4 separate regions of the Homo sapiens genome follow, and regions 1, 2 and 4 are each linked to region 3. Evidence: fine-mapped expression QTL. A gene starts in region 3. Each other region holds a variant in brackets. All regions are shown on one strand. Distances are between the middles of the regions.

Region 1 (2,689 bases), 140 kb before region 3:
ATCATGTTGGTATGGATATGTCTGACAATTCTAGTGACCATCCACAACTTCATTAAGAAAAATCCAAACATTGAAGAAGCAGCTTTTTTTTTCCTAGTAATAAATTTTCTCATGACTGTTTTATACATCAGCTTTGCCTTCTCCTTTTTTGGTTTCTAGGCAGTAGTAATGTTGGGGACACACTCCCCACCGGGCAGCTGTCCAACATACCATGGCGTCGGGCAGGGGTAAAGTACACAAACAATGAAGCCTATTTTGATGTTGTTGAAGAAATAGACGCAATTATAGATAAATCAGGTAATTGTGTGCATGTCATCTTATTTGGGGAAAAACAATTCATCTGACACAGATGAATAGAAAACTGAAGTCCTGGCCGGGCGCGGTGGCTCACGCCTGTAATCCCAGCCCTTTGGGAGGCCAAGGCAGGCGGAACATGAGGTCAGAGTTCGAGACCAGCCTGGCCAACATGGTGAAACTCTGTCTCTACTAAAGATACAAAAAATTAGCCGGGCATGGTGGCGCGCACCTGTAATCCCAGCTACTCGGGAGGCTGAGGCAGGAAAATTGCTTGAACCCAGGAGGCAGAGGTTGCAATGAGACAAGATCATGCCATTGCACTCCAGCCTGGCTCTGTCTCAACAAAAAAAAAAAAAAGAAGAAGAAAGGAAAAGAAAATTGAAGTCCTTTGGCAGTATGGTTTCGGTGGAAAGGCATTCATTATCTGATGATTTTTAAATCTGTTTGTTTATTTATTTATTTATTTGAGACGGGGTCTCACACTGTTGTCCAGGCTGGAGTGCAATCACATGATCTTGGCTCACTGGAACCTTCACCTCCTGGATTCAAGCGATCCTGCTGCTTCAGCTTCCCAAGTAGCTGGGATTACAGGCATGAGCCACCACACCTGGCTAAATTTTTTTTTTTTTTTTGAGACGCAGTTTCACTCTTATTGCCCAGGGTGGAGTGCAATGGTGCAATCTCAGCTCACCGCAACCTCCGCCTCCCGGGTTCAAGCAGTTCTTCTGCCTCAGCCTCCCGAGTACCTGGGATTACAGGCATGCACCAGCATGCCCAGCTAATTTTGTGTTTTTGGTGGAGATGGGATTTCTCCACGTTGGTCAGGCTGGTCTCGAACTCCTGAACTTAGGTGATCTGCCCGTTTCGGCCTCCCAAAGTG[T/C]TAGGATTACAGGCGTGAGCCACCGCTCCCGGCCCTGGCTAATTTTTTGTATTTTTAGTAGAGACGGGGTTTCACAATGTTGGCCAGGCTGGTCTCAAGCTCCTAACCTCAAGTGATCCACCTGCCTTGGCCTCCCAAAGGGCTGGGATTACAGGCGTGAGCCACTGCACCTGGCCCATAAATCTGTTTATTTTGCCCATAGGTTACATATAATTTTCATAACCACTAGTTGAGGTCTGCCAAACATGTAAATCAGAACTCATAATGCCTTACTTTAAGCCAATTATTACCCTATGTACCTCTACCTCTTGCTATTTATTCCTTCTAACATTTATTGAAAATCTGCTATATACCATGCTTTTGCTACTACATTATGTGCAGTACTTCTGGTAAAAGCCCCTATCTGATTATTTTTCACTTTCTTTTTTTTTTTTAAGTACAGGGTCTTGCTCTTTTGCCTAGGCTGGAGTGCATTGGCGCAGTCCCTGCTTACTGTAGCCTTGACCTCCAGCTCATGTGATCCTCCTACCTCAAACTCCTGAGTAGCCTATAGTCCCAGCCAATCAGGAGGTACACGCCACACGCCACCATGCCTGGCTAACTTTTATTTGTTTTTTTTGTACAGACAGGGTCTCACCATGTTGCCCAGGCTGGTCTTGAACTCCTGGGCTCAATCAGTTTACCTACCTCAGCCTCCCAAAGTGCTGGGATTACAGGCATCAGCCACCACACCCAATCTGATTATCTTTTTAACCAGACAAAACAATAGTACTCTATAAGAATCGTAAAATTTTATTATTAAAAATAGCAGCCGGGCATGGTGGATCACGCCTGTAATTCCAGCACTTTGGGAGGCCGAGGCAGGCAGATCACTTGAGGTCAGGAGTTTGAGACCAGCCTGGCCAACATGGTAAAACCCCGTCTCTACTATAAATACAAAAATTAGCTGGGCGTGGTGGCAGGCGCCTGTAAACCCAGCTACTTGGGAGGCTGAGGCAGGAGAATTGCTTGACCCTGGGAGGCAGAGGTTGCAGTGAGCCAAGATTGCACCACTGCACTCCAGCCTGGGTGACAGAGTGAGACTCCATCTCTAAAAAAACAAAAAAAGAAAAAAGAAAAAAAATCTAGTCCTTCCTTTACATTTATTTTACACATAAGGAAAGCCCAGAAGGGTTAAGTGAACTGTTCCAGGTCACACAACTTGTTAATATGTAATGATGGCTTATTGTGAATTATAGTCAATATCTTCTCTTCCATGAGTCCCCTTTTCATTATAACATTCCATCTTATAGAATAATAGATTTTTGCCAGGCACGGTGGCTCACACCTGTAATCCCAGCACTTTGGGAGGCTTAGGCAGGAAGATCACTTGAGCCCAGGAGTTCAAGACCAGCCTAGGCAACATAGCAAGACCCCATATCTATCAAAAATTTAAAAGATTAGCTAGGCATGGCTTCCTTAATCCTACCTATTCAGAAGGCTGAGGCAGGAGGATTGCTTGAGCCCAGGAGT
Region 2 (2,689 bases), 25 kb after region 3:
TGGCTCACTGCAACCTCTGCATCCTGGGCTCAAGCAATCCTCCTACCTCAGCCTCCTGAGTAGCTGGGACTACAGGACTGCGTCACCACACCACAGTAATTTTTTGTATTTTTTCTAGAGTTGGGGTTTCACCATGTTATCCAGGCTGGCCTTGAATGCCTGGCTTCAAGCAATCTGCCCACCTCAGCCTCCCAAAGTGCTGGGATTACAGGCATGAGTCACCTGTAATGCCCAGCCAATTTTGGAATATTTTTATCACCCCAAAAGAAACCTCCTACTCATTTGCAGTCCTCCTACTCATTTGCACCATCCCTACCCCTTGTCCTAGGTACCACTAATCTACTTTCTGTGACAATAGATTTGCATACTCTGGACATTTCATATAAATGGAATCATGCACTATGTGGTCCTTTGTGACCAGCTTCTTTCACTTAGCAAAATGTTTTCAAGGTTATTAATGTTGTAGCATGTATCAGTACTTCATTCCTTTTTATGACCAAATAATATTCCATATCTGACTATATTGCATTTTGCTGATTCATCACCAGTTAATGGGGCATTTGGATGGTTTCTACTTTTTGGCTATTATGAAAAATGTTATCATGAAAATTCATGTTTTTTGTTTGTTTTTTGAGACAGACTCTCACTCTGTGGCCCAGGCTGGAGTGCATGGCTCGATCTCGGCTCACTGCAACCTCCACTTCCCAGGTTCAAGCAATTCATGTGCCTCAGCCTCCTGAGTAACTGGGATTACAGGCATGTGCCATCACACCCAGCTAATTTTTGTATTTTTAGTAGAGATGGGGTTTCACCGTGTTGGCCAGGATGGTCTCAATCTCCTGACTTTGTGATCCACCCACCTCGCCCTCCCAAAGTGCTGGGATTACAGGCGTGAGCCACCACACCTGGCCATTCATGTACACGTTTTTGTATGGACATGTGTTTTCATTCCTCTTGGGTATGTACATAGGTCCATGAATTGATTTTTTTTTTTTTTTTTTGAGACGGAATTTCATTCTTGTTGCCCAGGCTGGAGTGCAATGGCGCGATCTC[G/A]GCTCACCGCAACCTCCACCTCCCGGGTTCAAGAGATTATCCTGCCTCAGCTTCCTGGGTAGCTGGGATTACGGGCATGTGCCACCACGCCCTGCTAATTTTGTATTTTTAGTAGAGATGGGGTTCCTCCATATTGGACAGGCTAGTCTCCAACTTCTGACCTCAGGTGATCTGCCTGCCTAGGCCTCCCAAAGTGCTGGGATTACAGGCGTAAGCCACTGCGACCAGCCAAATTGATATTTTTATGAGAAAGTCAATGATTATTTTCCAATCATTAAACTTTTATCTTTCTGATATATGGAGAACAGTAAGTGATAGTTAATGTGGGGCGAGGAAAGTGGAGAAGAAGTTAATAGGAACTTTCACTCAAGGTATAAAGGAATTTAAGAGCTTAGATGGTGAAGTGAAACTGCATAGTTTAAAATCCTGATTCTACTTTGGGAGGCCGAGGCGGGTGGATCACAAGGTCAGGAGTTCAAGACCAGCCTGGCCAATATGGTGAAACCCCGTCTCTACTAAAAATACAAAAATTTGCCGGTGTGGTGGCACGCACCTGTAGTCCCAGCTACTTGGGAGGCAGAGACAGGAGAATCGCTTGAACCCGGGAGGCAGAGGTTGCAGTGAGCTGAGATTGTGCCACTGCACTACAGCCTGGGTGACAGAGTAAGACTCTGTCTCAAACAAAACAAAACAAAACAAAACAAATCCTGATTCTACCTCTTACAAGATGTTTGCCTTAGGCAATTTATTTAACTCTCTGAGCTTCAGTTTCTTTGTCTATAAAATGGAGAAAAATATAACTACCTCATAAGATTGTTGTGAGGATTGAATCAGATAGCACTAAACCCAGTGACCAGCACATTGTAATGTTCACTAATAGTAATTATTGGCCAGCCACAGTGGCTCATGCCTGTAATCCCAACACTGAGAGGCTGAGGTGGGAGAACTGCTTGAGTCCAAGAGTTCAAGGCTGCCGTGAGACATGATTGCACCACTGCACTTCAGCATGGGCAACAGAGCAAGACCTTGTCTCAAAAAAAAAAAGTAATTATTATTAATAATTTACACACTGCTGCATTTTTATAATGAGCATGCATTGCTTTTGTAATTTAAAAAATAATTTTAAGATGCATGAAATCAACCTTAATTCTGTGTATTTACTAATGTAAATGCATTCTTACGTTACCAAATTGTGCTTTAAGCTGGAAAATAGTGCTTTGACCCTGTTTCCTTGCTGTCTGTGTTTTAGATTTACTGAGGAAATGGAGACTGCTTACTTAAAGCCTGTATCATGCTTTAGTTATTCTTTTCCATTTTACAAATCAGGAGGGAGAATTTCCTGGGCAAAAAATAATTCATGAAGTAGTGGTGCCATTTTTCACAAAAATTGATCCTGAGATGAATATTAATTGTGTAGTCTACAAAGAGTTAATTTTATTTCTCCATTGATAGTTTGGACCTTTGAAGTGAAGAAATTCTAACCGAACTCCTTTCTGACCCTTAAGCCTTTTTGTTTCCATGCAAAAGAAATCTGTTAATAATCTAGCATCTTGCCAAAGATTCTGTCTCATTTCTCTATAGCTGATTTGAGTATTCCATTTTAATTCACTGCCTGTGGAATTAGTAATTATATGAT
Region 3 (2,670 bases):
AGGGCAGCAGGGCTGAGCGGAAGGAAAAACCGGGCTTGTGGTCACGAATGACTGCATAAAGGTGTGAGAGTGCCAGAGGAGTGAGCATAAGTAAAATGCCCAGGAGGGAGGAGGAGGCGACAGAGAGTGAGGCAAGTGAATAAAAGGGCGGAATACAGGGAGCTCTGGGGAGCGGGGGTGGGCGAGGCGGGTCTCAGGGTGAGGGGCAGAAGTATTAGAAAGGAGGACAACGTGGCTCAAATAAGGATCCCTAGAAGAGAAGGCAAGGGATCCGTGGGAAGGCCCGCTCTCCCTCCCCCGCACAGCCAGATCGAGGAGGCCTAAAAGGCGCTGAGAGCGAGGAAGTCAACGTGGGGGCGAAGCCTGCGCGGGGCAGGGACCCTCGGACATCCCAGCAACTCTCATTTATTGGGTGTCTGCTGTGGGCCACACGCCGCGCGAGGCACTCCACGAATAATACCTCGCCATATCTTCACGACAAGCCCGCAAGGCAGCCTTTTTCATGACTGCTCCCATTTTATAGATGAGGACACTGAGGCCCGGAGAGGCTCAGGACTCGCTCAAGGTCACAGGGCGGAGAAGAGGCCATTCGAACCCTCGGCGCCTGGCTCCGGAACCCACGCGGAAAGCCACGGCCAGCGAGCCGGCCACAGGCAGCCGCGACGCGGGCCGGGGCCCCGGGGATACCTCCCGCGCCCGCTCCCGCGCCAGGCCCTGCGCGCTCACCCGGACGAGGTTGCTGACGGCCGCCTGCACGGCGGCCACGGGCGCGGTGAGGTCAGGAATGGCTTTGCCGTCCACCTCGCCCTCCTCGTGCATTATCACCAGGTGGGAGATCTGCTGTGCCACCGGCTCCAGGATGCTCTCGATCGTGCGCGTATGAAACACTGGCATCGCGGCGGCGAGCGGGGCGGCGAACCGCGGGCGACAGAGAAGTAGGATCCACGGGGCCGGGAACCGGCGAAGAGACAGACTGTGCAGCGACTACGGAGTCGGGGCTTCCCTCGGCGTAACCAGCCTCACGGGCTCCCCGCCCCCTCTCGTCGCCGCGCCCAATGGCAGCGCAGCTCAGACCTGGGCCGCCACTCCTACTGGTCCCTTTTCGAGATGCTCCGCCCCAGCCACCGCGCCGCCAAACCCCGCCCCTCCCCCATTCCTAAGGGAGGGGCCTGGGATTGGGGCTGAGCCGCCGGGATTGCTACCGGATTCCCGAGCCCTAACGCCGGGCGCTCCTTATAAGGGCATGGTGGGAGCGGAGCGGGCCGCTGGAGCCGGCTGGTCCCGCCCCCGGGCCGCCTCCCGCCTCGGATCTGGGGGGCTCCGCCCCTCTGCAGAATCACCTCAGCGGGGCGGGGTCTCCTCACCTCAAGCGGCGCTAGAGTTTGATGAGACCAAGGGGTCTCCCACGTCCCCTCCTCAACTTTTCCCTTCACACGAAACCCTCAAAATACTCCTTCCATTCCCTCCCAGCAATGCATGGGAAGGTTTTTAGTAAAAGATTCAAACAGCAGAGGTGCACTGAGAAACAGCAGCGTCCCATTCACGTAAACGCAGACTCCGCCCCCTGCCCTCCTCAAAGACATTCTGTTTAACAGCTGGGTGTGTAGCCTTCTAGACTTGTCTATAGATTCACTTCTACATATATATTTTCTAACTAAATGAGATTAATAAACATTTTCCTGGAACTAGGTATGATTGCCCTTGATTAAAATGCCCTTATCTTTCACTGCTGGTAGAGGTCTACCTCATTCTTCTTAATGACTGCATGATATTCCATTGCATGAAATAAAACTATTTACAGAACCAATTTCCTACTCATGGACTTGGGTTGGGTCCTGGTTTTCACTATTAAAAAACAATTCTGCATGAATTGTACTTACCCCTGTGCTGTGCATCTGTGTATTTATCTAGCGCAAATGCCTACCAGGAAAGAGAAAAACGCAAAAGTATATGCATTTTATATTTTGATAGGTAAGACCAAATTATCCAGTTCCCTCACGCTTTGTATAAGACATCTTCCAGGCCGGGCGCGATGGCTCACGCCTGTAATCCCAGCACTTTGGGAGGCTGAGGCGGGCGGATCACGAGGTCAGGAGATCTAGGCCATCCTGTCTAACACGGTGAAACCCCGTATCTACTAAAAATACAAAAAAAATAGCCAGGCGTGGTGGCGGGCGCCTGTAGTCCCAGTTACTCATGAGGCTGAGGCAGGACAATGGCGTGAACCCGGGAGGCGGAGCTTGCAGTGAGCGGAGATCGCGCCACTACACTCCATCCTGGGCGACAGAGCAAGACTCTGTCTCAAAAAAAAAAAAAAAAAAAAAAAGACATCTTCCAAACGTCTTACTTACTTCAAATTCGCTTTTGCCCAAGCTTTCCCATTCTGAGGTAAACACTTTCAGTAATGCCTCCAAGCAAAAGATTCTCACATCAAATGAAAATTTTTGTCTAGTCCTACCACAACCACCACAGCTGTTTTCTCTGCCCATTACTTTGTGTTAATAGTATAAATATTTGGGTGATGGGGCCAGGCACGGTGGCTCACGCCTGTAATCCCAGCATTTTGGGAGGCTGAGGCAGGCAGATCACCTGAGGTCAGGGGTTCAAGACCAGCCTGGCCAACCTGGTGAAACCCCGTCTCAACTAAAAATACAAAAATTAGCCAGGTGT
Region 4 (2,689 bases), 37 kb after region 3:
TGTGTATTTTACTACAATTTGTAAAAACCAGGTTCAAGGTAGGCTGCAGTGGCTCACGCCTGTAATCACAGCACTTTGGGAGGCCGAGGTGGGCAGACCATGAGGTCAGGAGTTCGAGACCAGCCTGGGCAATGTGGTGAAACCCTGTCTGTACTAAAAAATACAAAAAAATTAGCCAGGCATGGTGGCACACGCCTGTAGTCCCAGCTACTCAGGAGGCTGAGGCAGGAGAATTACTTGAACCCAGGAGGCGGAAGTTGCAGTGAGCTGAGATCATGCCACGGCACTCCAGCCTAGGCGACAGAGCAAGACTCTGTCTCAAAAAAAAAAAAAACTCAAAAAACCAGGTTCAATACCAAACCAGGTTCAACATTCTATTCTCTTTCCTTGTCCCTACATCTATGTATTCCCCAGTTGTTTCTCCAAACACTGTAATACACATTTTTGTATTTGATCCCCTCAACTTGTGGTATAATGAGTAGTTATTGTTAGTTACCAGAACCAGGGACTACTAATTTTTTCTTTTAATTAACTTTTTGTTGGTATAACATATATACAGAAAAGTGCACAAACCATATACAAATTACATAAATATCTATAAATTTGCAAAAGGCAAAACACTCCCGAGTGACTAATACCTAAAGGAAGGAACAGAACATCGCGAGCACCCCAAAAGCCCCCTCTTGACACCTTCTAGTCACTAATCTCCCAAGGGTAATTCTTATCCATGGGTGAACAGCATAGATTAATTTTACCTATTTTTGAACTTGACATAAATGGAACCATCAGTATATGCTCTTCTGTGTCTGATATCTTCCATGTAATATTATGGTTGTGATAGTCATCCATGTGGTTGTGCTTAGTGATACATTATTTATTCCCGTTGCTGTGTAGCACTCCATTGTATGAATTCACCATGATTTATTTATCCATTCTATTGTTGGTGGACATTTGAATTGTTTCTGTTCTTAGCTTTTACATATAGTGCCACTATGAACATTGTTTTTTCGTGTTTTTTTTGGTGACAGAATCCCGCTCTGTCGCCCAGGCTGGAGTGCAGTGGCGCGATCTCGGCTCGGCTCACTGCAAGCCCTGCCTCCTGGGTTCACGCCATTCTCTCGCCTCAGCCTCCTGAGTAGCTGGGACTACAGGCGTCTGCAACCACGCCTGGCTAATTTTTTGTATTTTTAGTAGAGACAGGGTTTCACCATGTTAGCCAGGATGGTCTCGATCTCCTGACCTCGTGATCCACCC[G/A]CCTCGGCCTCCCAAAGTGCTTGGATTACAGGCGTGAGCCACCACACCCAGCCAAACATTCGTATAGATGTTTTTATGTATATGAACATGCATTTTTTTAGAAACGTAATTGCTTATCACACCTTTTGCATATGTTCCACTTTGATAGTTGTCAAATGGTTTTCTAAACTGGCAATTTACATTCTCACTAGCCACATGTGAAAGTTCCAGTTGCTCTATGTCCTCACCAATACTGTGTTGTCTGTCTTTTTCATTTTAGCCATTCTGGTGAATGTACAAGGATATCTTATTGTATTTTAACTTGCATTTTCTTGCCAATTAATGAATTGGTGTCTTTTTGTATATTTATTAGCCATTTGGGTATTTTGAGATGTTTTAAAGGGTGTTCTTTCTCCTGGTTATGAAAATAATACATGCTGAGGTGGGTGAATCACTTGAGGTCAGGAGTTTGAGACGAGCCTGGCCCACATGGTGAAACCCTATCTCTACTAAAAAATACAAAAATTAGCCAGGTGTGGTGGCATGCACCTGTAATCCCAGATACCCAGGAGACTGAGGCAGGAGAATCACTGGAACCCGGGAGGTGGAGGTTGCAGGGAGCCCAGATAGTGCCACTGCACTCCAGCCTGGGTGACAGAGTGAGATTCTGTCTCAAACAAACAAACAAACAAAACCATGCTAATTGAAGAAGGTTTGGCAAATACATAGTGGCTTTGTACTATGTCAGTTTAGCTAAACTGAAACTATGTTTTTCAGAATTTCTTTCTCTGTATGGTTCTGGGCTAGGGTTGGCCACAGAAAATTTGCACAAGATTGGAGGGCAGAGGTGAAGCAAACATGCTTATGCTCAGAAGGTCAGTGTAGAGGCAGGTGCCGTTCTAACTTATGGTATCTCAGATCTGCTAGCTCACCCTGTGGCCATGGGATAGACTTGAGCCTACATCTCCTTCAGCTCCCATGACAGATCTTCCTTCAGCATTTTCAGTCCCTGAGTCAGGTCTGTGTTCAGCTTTATGATGAAGGTTCAGCAATTCCTGCAGGTCGCCCACATAATTGAAGTAGGAAGTTTTAGAGGCAGTGAGACATTGATACAGGCTCTATTTCATCCTGTGGGTGCCCTCTGGTTCTTTTGGACTCCCACTGGTCCTTACTGTCCCATACTTCATGTCTACCTGTTATTTCTGACTTCAGTCCCAGCACCAGAAACAGAAGCAACTGTTGTATACAAACTGCTTAACCAGTTCCCACATTGCATAACACCAAAACCCCACAAGAAACATCTTACTCTATGCCGTGCCTGATAATTCTGCTTCTCTAATTAAGCCTTGACCAATAATAGGCATTAAGAAGTAAACCATGGCCAAGCACAGTGACTCACGGCTGGAATCCCAGCACTTTGGGAGACCAAGGCGGGTGGATCGCCTGAGGTCAGGAG

What was found. PIP is the estimated chance that this variant, and not a neighbour inherited with it, causes the effect.
Region 1: its variant is the best candidate, but not a certain one, in a credible set for the expression of VCL in whole blood (INTERVAL, PIP 0.66).
Region 2: its variant is the best candidate, but not a certain one, in a credible set for the expression of VCL in whole blood (TOPMed, PIP 0.67).
Region 4: its variant is the best candidate, but not a certain one, in a credible set for the expression of VCL in whole blood (TOPMed, PIP 0.57).

Annotation. Positions count from the first base shown.
Region 1 is chr10:74,131,635-74,134,323 of GRCh38, reverse strand. AP3M1 (adaptor related protein complex 3 subunit mu 1) reads left to right here. Exons shown (of 9, transcript NM_012095.6): 4 at 160-297. Among named protein-coding and RNA genes, the nearest start is that of AP3M1, 18 kb to the left of the region's middle. The variant T/C (reference allele first, on the strand shown) is at 1,178.
Region 2 is chr10:73,971,466-73,974,154 of GRCh38, reverse strand. No RefSeq gene overlaps it. Among named protein-coding and RNA genes, the nearest start is that of VCL, 25 kb to the left of the region's middle. The variant G/A (reference allele first, on the strand shown) is at 1,054.
Region 3 is chr10:73,996,432-73,999,101 of GRCh38, reverse strand. VCL (vinculin) reads right to left here and starts at 986. Exons shown (of 22, transcript NM_014000.3): 1 at 727-986. The coding sequence starts at 894. RefSeq lists enhancers at 34-685, 758-957 and silencers at 638-687, 1,018-1,377.
Region 4 is chr10:73,959,540-73,962,228 of GRCh38, reverse strand. No RefSeq gene overlaps it. Among named protein-coding and RNA genes, the nearest start is that of VCL, 37 kb to the left of the region's middle. RefSeq lists a silencer at 2,044-2,338. The variant G/A (reference allele first, on the strand shown) is at 1,255.